Homo sapiens: one gene and its partner. The protein of the gene in region 2 purifies or fractionates together with the protein of the main gene of each other region. This does not show direct contact. Each region holds a gene or a part of one and is shown on either strand. Other genes may lie near its edges.

Region 1 (7,191 bases), on a different chromosome or scaffold from region 2:
TGAGCAATGAGAACTCATGGACACAGGAAGGGGAACTTCACACACCAGGGCCTGTTTTGGGGTGGGAGGAGGGGGGAGGGATAGCATGAGGAGATATACCTAATGTTAAATGACAAGTTAATGGGTGCAGCACACCAACATGGCACATGTATACATATGTAACAAACCTGCACGTTGTGCACATGTACCCTAAAACTTAAAGTATAATAAAAAGAAAAAAAAAAAAAGAAAATCTTCTTTTCTATAACTACAGGAGTTCTTATCCTGGCTGCACAAGAGTAACTTGCAGAGCTTCAAACTGTGGGATGCCTGTGACCCACCTGCTTGAGACTGATTAAGTGGTCTAGAGTGAGGCACAGTCCCCATTTTTGGAGCTCCCCAGACGAGTCAAACGTGCTGCCAGGGTTGAAGCTCACTCTGCCTAGCAAAGGATGGTGCGTAACATTTGCTCTGAGATAAGACTGGGCATGGTGGTTCACACCTGTAACCCCAGGACTTTGGGAGGCCCAGGTGAGAGGATCATCTGAGCTGAGGAGTTTGAGACCAGCCTGGGCAACATAGTGAGACTTGTCACTACTAAGGGAAGAAAAAAAAATTAGTCCAGCATGGTGGCACAGGTCCCAGCTACTCGGTAGGCTGAGGCAGGAGGATCACTTAAGCTTGGGAAATAGAGGCTGCAGTGAGCCATGATCACACCACTGTACTCCAGCCTGGGTAAAAGAGCAAGACCCTGTCTCAAAAAAAAAAAAGTTAGAAATAAAAATAAATAGAAAACATTTGCTCTGAGACTGATGACAAATAAAAATTATTTTTAATCTATTCACCTAACTTCATGTAACCACTACTGGGTGTCTACACAGCTGAACTAAAGCACAACTTCTGATGACAGAAAACAAGATTTTCCAGGTAAAACAGTTTTGCTTTGATTTTTGGTGAACCCCAAAGCTTTGTTTTTTGCCAAGCCATTAAAAAAAAAAAAAAAAAAAAAAGGAAAGGGCCAGGTGGGGTGTGGCTCACGCCAGTAATCCCAGCACTTTGGGAGGCAGAGGCTGCCAGATGGCCTGAGCCCAGGAGCAGTAGTTCCAGACCTGCCTGAGCAACATGGGGAAAGTGTCTCTACAAAAAAATACAGAAGGCCGGGTGCAGTGGCTCACACCTATAATCCCAGCACTTTGGGAGGCCAAGGCAGGTGGATTGCTTCAGCCCTGGAGTTCGAGACCAGCCTGGACAACATGGCGAAACCCCGTCTCTACTAAAAACACAAAAATCAGCCGGGTGTGGTGGCGTACACCTGAAATCCCAGCTACTCAGGAGGCTGAGGCAAGAGAATCACTTGAACCTGGGAGGTGGAGGCTGCAGTGAGCGAAGATCGCGCCACTGCACTGCAGCCTGGACGACATAGAGAGACTCCGTCTCAAAAAAAAAAAAAAAAAAAAGTTGGCTGGGGCGGTGGCTCAGGCCTGTAAGAGGCAGAAGCGGGTGGGTCACTTGAGGTCAGGAATTCGAGACCAGCCTGACCAACAATGGTGAAACCCAGTCTCTACTAAAAAAATTAAAAATTAGCCGGGTGTGTTGGCACACACCTGTAATCCCAGCTACTCCGGAGGCTGAGGCAGGAGAATGGCTTGAACTGGGAGGCAGAGGTTGCAGTGAGCCAGGATCGCCCCATTGCACTCCAGCCTGGACAACAAGAGTGAAACTCCGTCTGAAACTTTAAAAAATGGACTAACCTCCTAATACAACACAAACACAAGCACCATACAACTGTAAATGATTTACGATCATTTACAATGAGTAAGATATTACTCCTACCCTTGAAAAGCTCGTAGGAGGTTTAAGTTGAATTTAGGTGAACGTGAAAATTTTCTGACCACTGAATTTGAAGATGAAGATACACTATGTACTTTTCGGACAAAATGTGATGACTTTAAGATTTCTTGTCACTAAATTGGGGATGGGGGCTTACTAACTTTAAATTATTTAAGTACTTCAGACAAAAACTAATAACTTCATATCTCTCACAAAGCAAACATTCTGTCTATACACAGAATTTACTAGAACCTGTGAGGAAACTGTAATCATTATCATTTCCGTTTTACAGAATAAGGCAATCAGAACAACTGACTTTCCTAACATCACAGACCTAGATCAGAATTCAGAACTCTGTGTCCAATCTTAGGTCCCTTCCAATATTACAACCTGCAAACTAATCAAACCGGCATCTGTTTTTACATTTCTTTAAAAAAAGCAAAGCAATTAAAAAAAGGACCCAATTCTGCTCAGAGACGAATATGTATTTCTTAATTTGGATCTAACTTTATAACATGGTGATCAACCCAAGTACACTGTACTCGACTCCGAAAATCCTGCTCGTCACTTTATATTTTGAGTCCTACTAGAGACTTTGATGAATTGCACTCAAGAAGACGCGGCCCCCACTACGCAGTGGCTACGGGAGATGGCTTCCAGGGCAACTGTTCTCCAAGTTCATTTCTGAGCGCCGGGTAACCATGGCCAGTAATTAATCCAATTCTAAGCGTTGCTATCAATTCTACGCGTTGCTATCAATTCTACTGATTTCCCTGATCGACCAGAGTCTTCCCATTGCAGGAGCTTTTGTCACAACTTAGGCTTTACCTGTACAACCGTCATCTCCACAGAGGAGCGACAAGCCTTTATGCAATATGGACACCAAGAAAACCGCCTTCGAAGACACGCAAGGCAAAATTCTTGCCAGTGTCCGGAAATACCCGTCTCTGGAACCCAAAAGTCAAACTAAAATTAAAAGTTCGGCTTAGCAACACCGCGAAAGGCGATGTAGGCGTCCACCTGGAGTTTAGCTGCCTCAACCTCCGCCCCGGCCTGCCGGGTCTCTGGGGACCCCGTCTTCCTCCAGCGGGCTCTGGGATGCGGCCCGCTCACCTCTGACCCTGGCCGGATCTCGCGCGTCTAAGCCACCGCGTTGCCAGTCGCTGGCCACCCACCTACCGCCACCGCCCACCTGTGCGGGTCGCCTCGCCGCTAGGCCCCAAGACGGCGCCGCCTGCTCGGCAGCAAAGCCCACCCGCCCCGTCGGCGGCTCAGTGCTGCACCCCCACCAACAGCCAGTTCCGGCGGCCGCACTTCCGATTGGCAGGCTGGGCCGAGGGGCGGGGAAGGCGGGCGGAAGGGGAGGAGCCGGGAGGGCGGGGCCGCTGCCAGGAGCCTGGAGCGCTGCGTTCCGCGCAGGACGCCGGTGAGGCCCGCAGAGACTTGCGTCCGGGCGGGAGGCGGGGCCCAGGATCTCTGCTCAATCCTGGAGTCCGAGTCCGCAAAGTGGGAGGGAGGGTGTAGATGTGAATTTGGGGAAAAACGACCCTGTTGAATTTCTAGAGTGGAAGAAACATAGAACTAGCTTTTCTCTTTGCTTAGCACATACAAATGGAAAAACAGCGACACCGTTACCTACATTTACTAGTCCAATGCGTACAACCTTCTGTAGTATATCAACTGCCAATGAGTTTATGTTTTTAAAAAAACCACCCCAGAGAAGGGTTCTAAAAATTCAGAAACCGCATTACTAGCACACATTGTAAGGTCTGTTTTGTTTTGTTTGTTCGTTTGTTTTTCAGACAGAGTCTCGCTCTGTCGCCCAGGCTGGAGTGGAGTGGAGAAATCTCAGCTAACTGCAACCTTTGCCTCCTGGGTTCAAGCGATTCTCCCTGCCTCAGTCTCCGGAGTAGCTGGGATTATAGGCGTGCACCACCACACCCGGCTAATTTTTGTATTTTTAGTAGAGACTGTTTCACTATGTTGGGCAGGCTGCTCTTGAACTCCTCATCTCAAGTGATCCACCCGCCTTGGCCTCCCAAAGTGCTGGGATTACAGGCGTGAGCCATCATGCACGGCCTGGGGTGAATCTTTTTAATGAGCATTTATTATTTGCCGTTCACAATGCCAAGGGTCATAATGAATGAAAGTGTCTTGGAATTAGAGTTAGTGGTTGCACACATTATAAGTGTATTAAAGTACACTCCAAAATAAAATCCGAACACATTAAGTGGTTACTCCCATTCCTCCCTCTCTCAGCCCCTGGCAAATGCCAATCAGCTTTCAAACTGTGGTACCTATTACGGATATTTCATATAAATGGAATGTGTGACCTTTTGGTCTGTCTTCGTAGCATAATCTTTTGCAGGTTCACCTTGTACACCTTGTTGCATGTATCGGTACTTCATGTCTCTTTATGGCTACTATTCCACTGTACCTAGATGCCACAGTTTTACCTGTCCATCCACTGATGGACATTTGGGTTGTTTCCACTTTCGGGCTATTGTGAATAGCAATGATATGAACATTTGTATACAAGTATTTGTTCGAGTCCCTGTTTTCAATTCTTTTGGGTATAAACATAGTGGAACTTCTGGGTCTTATAGTAATTCTACGTGAAAATATTTGAGGAACCCATAAACAAATGTTTCTACAGCAGCTGAACCATTCATTTTACATACCAAGAGCATTGTCGGGGGATTCCAATTTCTCCACATCCTCACTAACACCATAATTTTCTATTCCTTTGATAGTAACCATCCCAAAGGGTATAAAGTGGTATTTTATTGTGGGTTTGATTTGCATTCCCTAATGGCTAGTTATCTTGAGCATCTTTTCATGCCCTTGTTAGCCATTTGTATATCTTCTTTGGAGAACTCTCTATTCAGGTATTTCCCCATTTTTAAATTGAGTTGTTTGTGTTTTTGTTGTTAGTTATGTGTAGTCATATATTCTGGATATTAGACCCTTATGAGATATATCATTGGTGGATACTTTCTCCCATTCTGTAGGTTGTCTTTTCACTTTCTTTGTAATATCCTTCAGTGTACAAACCTTTTTAATTTTGATGAAATCTAATTTATCTATTTTGTTACTTGTGCTTTTGGTGTCATCACCAAGAATCCATTGTGCAAGCACACTAGCTTTCATGTCTCTTCTTATGAGTAACTAATTCTATTGGATAAGGGCCCCACCTTTATGATCTTCTTAAACCTTAATTACCTCCTTATAGATCTTATCTCCAATACAGTGACATTGGGGTTTGGGGTTACATATATGAATTTTGTGGAGATATAATTTGGTCAACAGACTTCTGTACCCCTGCAATTCATGTCCTTATTGAATACAAAATACATTCATACCACTTCAACAGTCTCAAAAGCATCAACTCTAAAATCTGAAGTCCGAAGTCTCTTCTAAATATCACCTAAAACAGATAAGGGTGAGACTTGAGATATGATTCATCCTGATGCAAATTTTCTCCCCAGCTATGAAACTGTAAAACCAGGGAAGTTGTTTGCTTCCAAAATACAATGGCAGAACAGGCATAGAATAGGCATTCCAAACAAACAAACAAACAAAAATAGGAGCAAGAAAGGAAGGAAATAAAAGAAATAGGCAAAAAGGAAGGGATGACAGGTCCCAAGCAAGTCCAAAAATCTAGCAAGGCAAATTCTAGTAGATTTTAAGGCTCAAGAATAATCCATTTTGATTCAGTGCCCTGCCTTCCAGACCTACAAGGGTGGTGGCCCTGCCTTCTGGACCCTAGGTGGATGCTATACCTCTCCCCACACTCTGCCAGGCATGCTCTTCCAGGCAGAGTCTCATCCCAAAAGTTTTGCTAGGTAATGGCCTTGATAACATCTGAATTGCTTTGAGGTCATTCTCCCCTTTTCTTAAAGAATAGCACAAGTTTGGCCAGGTGCGGTGGCTCACGCCTGTACTCCCAACACTTTGGGAGGCCAAGGTGGGCAGATCACGAGGTCAGGAGTTTGAGACCAGCCTGGACAACATAGTGAAACCCCATCTCTACTAAATATACAAAAATTAGCCTGGCCTGGTGGTGCATGCCTATAATCTCAGCTACTTGGGAGGCTGAGGAAGGAGAATCACTTGAACCTGGGAGGTGAAAGTTGCAGTGAGCTGAGATCCCGCCATTGCACTCTAGCCTGGGCAATGGAGTGAGAATCTGTCTCAAAAAAAAAAAAAAAAAGGAATAGTACAAAGTTAGCAGCTGGATAGCTCTATTGTCCTGTCCTGTAGAATCTAGGACATGTAAAAGCCTTCTGTCATTTTTGTCTTGTCTGCATCCCCTTCAGTTGAAACAGGCAGTGTTTCTGCTCATATAATCTCATCATTTATTTATCAAATGATAGTCTAACCATACCTTTGGTGTTTTCTTTAGAATGTACTTTCTCATTTTCTGCAACATGACAGGCAGATAATTTTCCAAATATTTGAGTCTTGGTTCCTTTTTGCTTAATAATTTCTTCTTTCATTCATCTCTTCTTGCATTTTACTATAAGCATTCAGGAAGATCCAGGTCGCACTTTCAGCATTTTGCTTAAAAATCTCAGTTAAATATTCAATTTTATCATTCACAAATTCTGTCTGCCAGAAAACACTAGAAAACAAGTCAGCCAAGTTATTTGCTACTTTATAACAAGGACTGCCTTTCTTCTGTCTTCCAGTGACCCATTCTTCATTTCCATCTGAGACCTCACAAGAATGGCCTTTAACAAACATATATTTACCAAAATTGTGTTCATGATTATGTTTTCTCTAAGAAGATGGAGGCTTTCTCTTCAACTGTATTTCTGAGTTCTTACCAGAATTGCCTTTAACATCCATATTTCTAGCATGGAAATCTAGGCTTTTTCTAGCATGCACCTCAGAATTCTTTCAGCCTCTACCCATTACCTAGTTCCAAAACCACTTTCACATGTTTAGGTTTTATTAAAGCAACATGCAACTTCTTGGTAGCAAAATCTATCTTAGTTTGCTCAAGCCGCCATAACAAAATACCATAAACTGAATGGCCTAAGCGACAGAAATTTATTTCTCATAGTTCTAGAGGCTGTGCAGTCCAAGATCAAGGTGCTTGCCAATTTGGTTTCTGGTGAGGGCTCTTTTACTGGCGAGTAGATAGCCACCTTCTTTCTGCATTCTCATATGATAAAGGAAGCGGGAGAAGGAAAGGGAAACAGACAGAGAAACACACAGAGAAAGATATCTGGTCGTTTTTGTTGTTTTTTTTTTTTATAAAGATACTAATCTATAGCATCAGAACTCCACTCTTGTGATCAATTTAACCTCAGTTACCTTCTTATATAGGTCCCATCTCCAAATACAGTGACACTGGGGGTTTGAGCTTCAATATGT
Region 2 (7,656 bases):
GAAATTAATAAACAGAAAAAATTATCCTGTTTGTACCACTGAAAACCCTAATGAGAAAGTCATGTCTCACTTAATTTTGCCTGTAGATATTTCTCCTTGGTCTATATTGAACTCATGGGGAAAGCAGAGGTCTCAAAAAAATGTTTCAATCTGATTCATTTATTCTCTCCAGCACATTTTGTCATTTCTTATTCACTTACAATAAAAAGCCTCCTAGACCTTTTATATACAATCTCTCTATTTCATTGTCTATTGCATTGTTAGAAACGCCCTTCCTACCTGAATAGTGTTTTTTAGAACAGTAGCTGGGCAAAGAAGGATGTTTTCCAAACCTGCCTGATAAGAATCACTTGCTCTGATTATCAAAAATAATGGTTCCCAGCCCTCAACCAGAATTCACTTAAATAGATCTGTGCATTCCAAAAACACTTTTGGTGCCTATTTGTTTCCGTTACTAGGAAAGCAACTGAGGAAACATGAACAAATAACACGAGGTTTCCCAACCTTAAGGAGCCTTGTCTAGAGAAAGGTGATCAACATGTTCAAAACCACCACATGTGCTGGAATGAAGGCACGGGCAAAATGCTTGATGCTCCCACCGGGCAAGGAGCCAACGGATGATGGGCAGGAACTGACTGGGCCAAGGCAGGGGAGGTAATTGCTGCTGCCGCTAACACATATTAAATGCTGACTCTAGTGACAGATACTAGGCGGAGTGCTTTACAGACGTGATCACACTTAATTTTCACAATTGCTATTATCTCACTAATTCAGATGTGGCAAGCCCTTGGTTAAATTAATATTTTTCCCAAGAACGAGCAGCTGGAATGGGGCTCAGAACTCTCGTTCTGCACAGAGGAGGGTACAAGCCCCACCGTCGTGCCATCAGCAAGTCTTTCTTGTCCCTTCTCTGGACTTCACTATCAACAGCTCTGCTGTCTACCGCGTGAGGAACTCAAGATCTGAAGGAAAAAGGAGAAACTTCTTTCTGCAGAACAGTGTGCCTCTCAGAGCCCTTTTCTGAATTTCAAGCCCAAATCCATCATGCTAAAGGATTCTTCTTCATTTCTGCAAGCTGGCTGTATAACTCCTAAGCCACTAACTAAAAGTGAAGTCGACTGCTGGCAGAAATGCAGTTTCAAAGGCCTCCTAATTATTTACCAAACACAATTGTATAGTCGACACACACAATTCTCACTGAAGCAAAGTGGAATGATGCCTATTCATAAACTTTCCTTAATTGTACTCACAAGCGGCTCCATGACATTAGAAAAGATAAGATAGAATGAATACTTTTTAGGAGACTAAATTAGAACATGATTACCTCATTATGTCCAGATCTTGAATCCTGGTCCCCAGAATTTTTTTCCAGAAAACACTTCACTTTCTCCACCTCTTCCCTGCACTGAAAAAAGGCCATTTTCTCCAGCTGGTTGCTGTTATAACACGTGTTGAATTCTTCCAGCCTCTTCACTTTTAACATCTTAGTAGTGAGTCCGATTAAGCTACTTTCTGGAGTGTGGTTTTCGTCTCCCTCTGTCTCCGATTTATAAATCAGGACACAATTATGACTCTTCAGTGCTTCTTTCTCTTGACTGCAAAGAAAGGAAACACAAAAAGTTCTCATCACGTATTCATGCATTTGACTTCTTGAGAAAATGACCAGTGAGAATTTGGAAGTCCCTTCTGTTTAAACTGGAGAGAGGATCCAAAATCAGGAAAAGAAATACTAACATTCATATTGAGTTTCCAACATTGGAACTTTAAAAGGAAAAAAAATTTTTTCACTTTAAAACTACAAAAGCAAACAGTAAGAAGCAATGTCAAGATTCACTGGTGATGAAATATGCTCCTTATTGCACAAAACAAGCCGTAGATCAAGTGGCCAGCTTGGATGTAAATTATAAAGTATCTTTGGGTTTAATTGGAACCGCAGGTTTTGCAGCCCCGTGGGAAGGGCTTATCACAGAAGGGGTCTCTCTGCTTCCCCTGGCCTCCCTCTGCAGAGGGATCGCTCCCGAATGAGTCCTTTTCCAGAACTCTTCTCTACCTATGCCTTAAAATGTGTGGTGTTTATTTGTGAAAAGAAATTTATTTCCTTACAGTCTTCTCACGTGGACAGCACTCCCAGATACCTTTCCTTGCATCTGCATTAACAGCTATGTACCGAGAAGTTCAGAGTCTTTTCACTCTCCTTAAAATACTTTCCTCGCAAATGAAGTAATGCAGCATACATAATTCGCTTTGATACTAGAGACATATACGCATGTCTATATGTACACATCACTTGATTGCATAGAGAGGCAGGGAGAGGGAGAGACATTTGAATTTGTGCTAGTTCCGCATGGCTGACAACTGAGGCCCCCTGGTGGAGATTTTCCGAAAAGCGCCTCTTCGAGCATTTTCTCCGCTTAAAAACCGTATTGTGATTCTCATCAGAAAACTTAATATTTTGTTTTGTCAGTTCCTATAGTAAAATGATACTCTTGAGTTCCAAAGTGTTTAAAATTCACTGCTCTAACAAATTATACTTATCCACATAAAGAGCTTACATTCAAACAAATAAAAATGCAAATATTAATACTATCAACCAGAGCTCTACAGATATATTACAGATCATTCTTAGCATTCTTTCAAATTGCCCTGAAAAAATTATTAAAATAAGGAAACAAATGCATGGCTATTTCTAAGGCAAACTACGACTAAAATACTATGGTTAATTGCAGATGAAACTCAAGTTGGATCAGGAAGCCACACAAAATTAATGTATTAAAACAAAAGCTTAGGATTAAGATACAATAATTTTGCAAAGAAATATTAAACATTAAGCTCTACCTGAAGTTTGGTACAATTTGTTATTGAAGGTAACTTAGAAAAAAGGGGAGGAGATTTGAGAGGTTATAACAATAAACAAAGATAATTACCATTGATAGGATCACATCGAAGAGCTTGAGCCACTCCAAGTCTAGAGCATACATTCCAGAAGATAAAGAGAAATTTTGCAGAATTCAAACTGACTATGAAAGTCTCTGGTAAAAGTTTTGACTCTCAGTCGTATAAATCTTCTGAAAAGACAAGTGTCCACTACGAGAGGAAGTATCTTCTCTCTCAAATGCCACTTTCAGCCCCTGTTTAAATTAATATGGCTCTTGATCTCACGTTGCTCAGCTGTTGCCTTCTTAGTCAGATGGGGAAGAATATTAATTTTAGACACCAGGCTTTTCAAGGCCAATGGCTCCATTTCAGAGGTCAGGTAAGGAGAGGATGAACCGGGAACACTGGATGAAATATCACCTTCACCTTTCCCTCGTATCATTGTGTCAATACTCTCGGATTTACAAAGCTAGATTTGTCCTCGGCAATCATCTGCCTGGACCTTCTGCCCCTTTCAGACTCAGGATTATTTAAGTGCTCATTAAATTTCCCCCAGTAGGGAAAATGCCAGGTGTGGCAACCCCACAGCCACCTCTGTTTGCCCATCTTACGCTTTGAGCATATCCAACTGCAATATAGAAGATCTTCTGAAAGCAGTTAGCAAGTTTGTTTTATTTTTCTCAGTTCTTAAAGATGTTTGCAAAGTCTCCAACCATTTCTAGCTCTAGGGAAAGGTCAAAGGCACAGGCATCCAGGAAACAGGAATAAATTTTTCATAAATTCTCCTTAAGCAACACTAGGACTTCATCCGTAGTTTTCTGCACAGACCAAGAAAGGGGAATTTCAACCCACCTGCCCGACTCTCACAGTAGTGCATCCCTAGATTCACTGAAGTGGCATAAAACTTTGATTGCCCAGAGGCTGGACTTTGCAGTCTTGAAAACCCTGCAATTTTTCAGGGCCTGGCCAATTGTCACCTCTTATTTGGAGCCTGTGTTAGCCCCTCTATGCCCCATTCTAACACCAGCCTCTGCTGCTCTTCTGCTTCTTTTAAAAAAAAAACCTTATTTTTAATTCAGATCGATGCATTCCATGTGAAATAAAAATACATATTTTTCCATTTTATGTAGTATTAATGAATTACAGCAAAATCTTTTTTAAAACACAAAACGCTTGTTATTTTTCAGATTGGAGAGCTTTGTTCTTCAGCAAAAGTAATGAAGTGGAACTATAAATTTGTGGAGATAAATTATCTGACAAAAGTATTATACAAAGACTAAGCTGGTTTGAGGTTACCAATTTTGTTAGTATAATTAAATTGTGTAGAAGTACTGATAAGGCAACAAATGCCCTGCCAGAGGCAAGATGTGTGTGGGCTGCTGCTGATCCAACCACATCCTCCACCCGGACCACCACCACGCAAAAGCAGACTTCCTATCTCGTTGGCTCCAGCAAACCAACCACAGGCTTGAGTGAGCCAGAGGCCAGGAGAATCTGCTCCTTAGCTTATTTTTTTGTAATAAACTTTTCCTTTTAGAGTAGTTTTACATCTACAGAAAAGGTGCAAAGGTAGTTCAGAGTTCCCCTTGCCCTGCACCCCGAATCCTCTGTTTTTAACATCTTACGTTGGTATGGTATACTTGTCACAATTAATGAACCATGGTGAACGTTATTATTAACTAAACTCAATACTTTATTGTTGCTGGGTTTTTTTTTTCCCCAAATGCCCCTTTTCTGTTCCAGAATCCCATGCAGGATTCCACAGTACATTTAGAATCAGTAGGATTTATGATAGATTGGGTATGGGGTATGAAAGAAAGATGGTAGACACCTTTGCATATTTTCTTCTGAGCACTTGAAAGACAGAGTGAACATTAACTGAGATGGAGACGGCTGTGGGAAGGGCAACTCTGGAGGGAAAGGTCAGGCATGAAGTCTTTGGCAAGTCCATTAAACGTTCAAGTTGAATAGGCTGTGGAGATAGAAACTGGAGTTCCGGGGAGGGGTGTAGGCTGGAGATAAGAATTTGGAAGGCATCCACATATAGACATTTCCATGCACAATATACATTCAATACATATTTGATTAATGACTAGATAGAATGATCTTTAATTGTGTCTACTTGCCCTAAAAAGCAAGTCAATTAAAATAATCCATGCTAAAAGTGACTGATTGTCTGGTTCTGCTGCATCACACTGTTCCCAGCTTCCGATGGCATACAGGACAAGCACACTGCTGGCACAACCCTTGACCACAAAAAAACAGGTTATACATGCATACTCATTCTGGTCTATCAGCCTAGCCTCAGGATCCTAAGTCCATACCCATAAAATGTTCTGCATGCTTAAAGATGCTCTTATACCCGGAAAAATTCATTAGTGAGGAATATGAGCAGGCCCAGGAACACTTTTCCAGTATTTCCATATTTTGGAGTTATACTTCTCTAAAAAATACCAACATCAGGAAAACAGCACCCTACAGAGCCATGGAAAAGAATCCCTTGATTTTTTTCAAGGGACATTTCCATTAGCTGAGTAAGAGACTGTGTTGTCAAAGGAGCCACATGAAGAAACATCGTCGACAGCTCTTGTCTACGGGTTGGCATTGAAACCCGGCTGGATTACACTAAGAGTTTTTGTTTCTACACAGCGTTCTGAATGTTTCCAGAACAAGACCTCTTGAATGTTTACACACAAAAGCGGAGCAACAGTACAAATACCCAAATGCAAATAAAAAGCTACTGCATCCCTGTTACCCACATTACAATAGAACTTCCTTACTTTCAAAAATCACCACTGAATACGACCCATAAAAACGAAGATTGATAAATTGCACTTCTTCAAAATTCAAAACGTTTGCCTTTGAAAAAACACTATTAGGAAAATGAAAAGACACTATTATGAAAATGAAAAGACCAGCTACAGATGTATAGAAAATACTGTGAAGTCACATATTTGACAAAGGACTGCATCTAGCATATACAACTTAATAATATATGACAAAACATTCCAGTTTTTTAAATGGACAAAAGATTAAAACAGACCTCACCAAAGAAGATATAAAAATGGTTAATAAGCACATGAAAAAAAATGCTCAAAATCAGTCATCAGGGAGATGCAAATTAAAACCACAAGGAAACATCATTTCACACCCACTAGGAGAGCTGTAATAATAATGAAAAAAATAAAAGATAGGTTGGGTGTGGTGGCTCACACCTGTAATCCTAGCACTTTGGGAGGCCAAGACAGGAGGATCACTTCAGTCCAGGAGTTTGAGACCAGCCTGGGCAACATAGCAAGACCCCATCTCTACCAAAAAAAAAAAAAAAAAGACAGAGAAAAGCAAGTGTTGACAAGGATGTGGAAAAACTGGAACCCTCACCAAATATGTTGATGGGAATATAAAATGATACAGGTGTCTTATAAAAGAGGTTGGCAATTTCTTAAAAAGTTATTTCCCATATGACCTAGAAATTCTTCTCCTAGGTATCTACCCAAGAGAAATGAAAACATATGAACACAGAAACCATGGCACATGAATGTTCACAGCAGCATTATTCACAATAGCCAAAAACTGAAAACAACCAAAATGTCCATCGGATGATTTGGAGACTGGGAAAAGATAATGTGGTATACACATACAAATGGAATACTACGTAATTAAAAGGAATGAAATACTGGTATCTACTACAATATGGATGAGCGAAAACACTGTGCTAATTGAAAAAAAAAAGCCAGAAACATAGAGCACAGATTGTATGATTCCATTTGTATAAAATGCTCAGAAAAGACAAATCTATAGACGTAGAAAGCAGACTGGTGGTTGCCGGGGGCTGGGTGCAGGAATGGGGGTTAATTGTAAACAGAATCTTACCCGATGATGTGTGGTAGTGATGACTGTACAACTCATTCAGTTTCTTAAAACAATGCAGAATTGTGCACTTGAGATGGGTGAATTTTATAATATGTAAATTATACTTCAATAGAGTCATTAAGAAAAAGAAAACCCAATAATATGATTAACAAAAAGTAGCTTGTTAAAAGGAGAGGAAAAAACTGAACACTTTGTGGTCATCTGTCCCCAGTGACCAAGGCTGGGATCCAGGGAAACATAAATTATATTCCACACTTGCCAGGTCACCTAGGGCCAAAGAAAAGGAATGGTGAGCAGGAGACAGTTAAGAGTCTCACGCTTTTCTTCTCCTGGCATGAATATCATGCAATATAAGATTTTGTAATTAATAGAAAAATTAATAGTAATTTTAAAAGTAATTTCTATCTTTTATTTTCTGCTTGGAGATAGGATACTTTGAGCAAGAAAGATAATGATGTTATGGAATATCCAGATTTCTTTACAGGAAATTTTGATATTAGACCACTAAAACTTCTAAGTGACAGCAATTAGCTAAGTATTACGAAATACAAAAATGAAAATAAAACAGGTTTTAAAAATTAGATAAAAATATGGATTGGATCATTTAAAAATTAATATTTTTCAGAAATATTACATAAAGTTTCAGTTTATTACCTCTACAGTGGCTACACAAATTGTTCCTTTAATTATATCCCTTAAACTTTCTAAGGGATATTTGCAAGCATAGTACAATGAATACCTATACATCCTTCACCCATATTCACCAAATGTTAGCATTTTCCATGTTTGCCCTCTCTCTCTCTTTTGCGAGTAAGATGCATATCTCATGAAACTTTACCCCTATATGAATTGGTGTATGTTTCTTGAGAAAAAAGACACTTTCTCACATAACAGAATCTACTCAAAAAT

Evidence for each region.
Region 1: the proteins of MYLK4 (region 2) and SUPT20H purify together in Homo sapiens (affinity purification with mass spectrometry; 2 studies listed by BioGRID and IntAct, with this or other methods). This does not show direct contact.

What each region holds. Positions count from the first base shown.
Region 1 is NC_000013.11:37,056,558-37,063,748, forward strand, and holds the start of SUPT20H (transcription factor SPT20 homolog), read right to left. Parts: upstream 3,132-7,191; 5' UTR 3,002-3,131; exon of another isoform or gene 2,638-3,001; intron 1-2,637. UniProt on the Homo sapiens protein: Required for MAP kinase p38 (MAPK11, MAPK12, MAPK13 and/or MAPK14) activation during gastrulation.
Region 2 is NC_000006.12:2,747,812-2,755,467, forward strand, and holds the start of MYLK4 (myosin light chain kinase family member 4), read right to left. Parts: upstream 3,112-7,656; 5' UTR 2,925-3,111; intron 1,596-2,924; coding exon of another isoform or gene 1,484-1,595; coding exon 1,325-1,483; intron 1-1,324.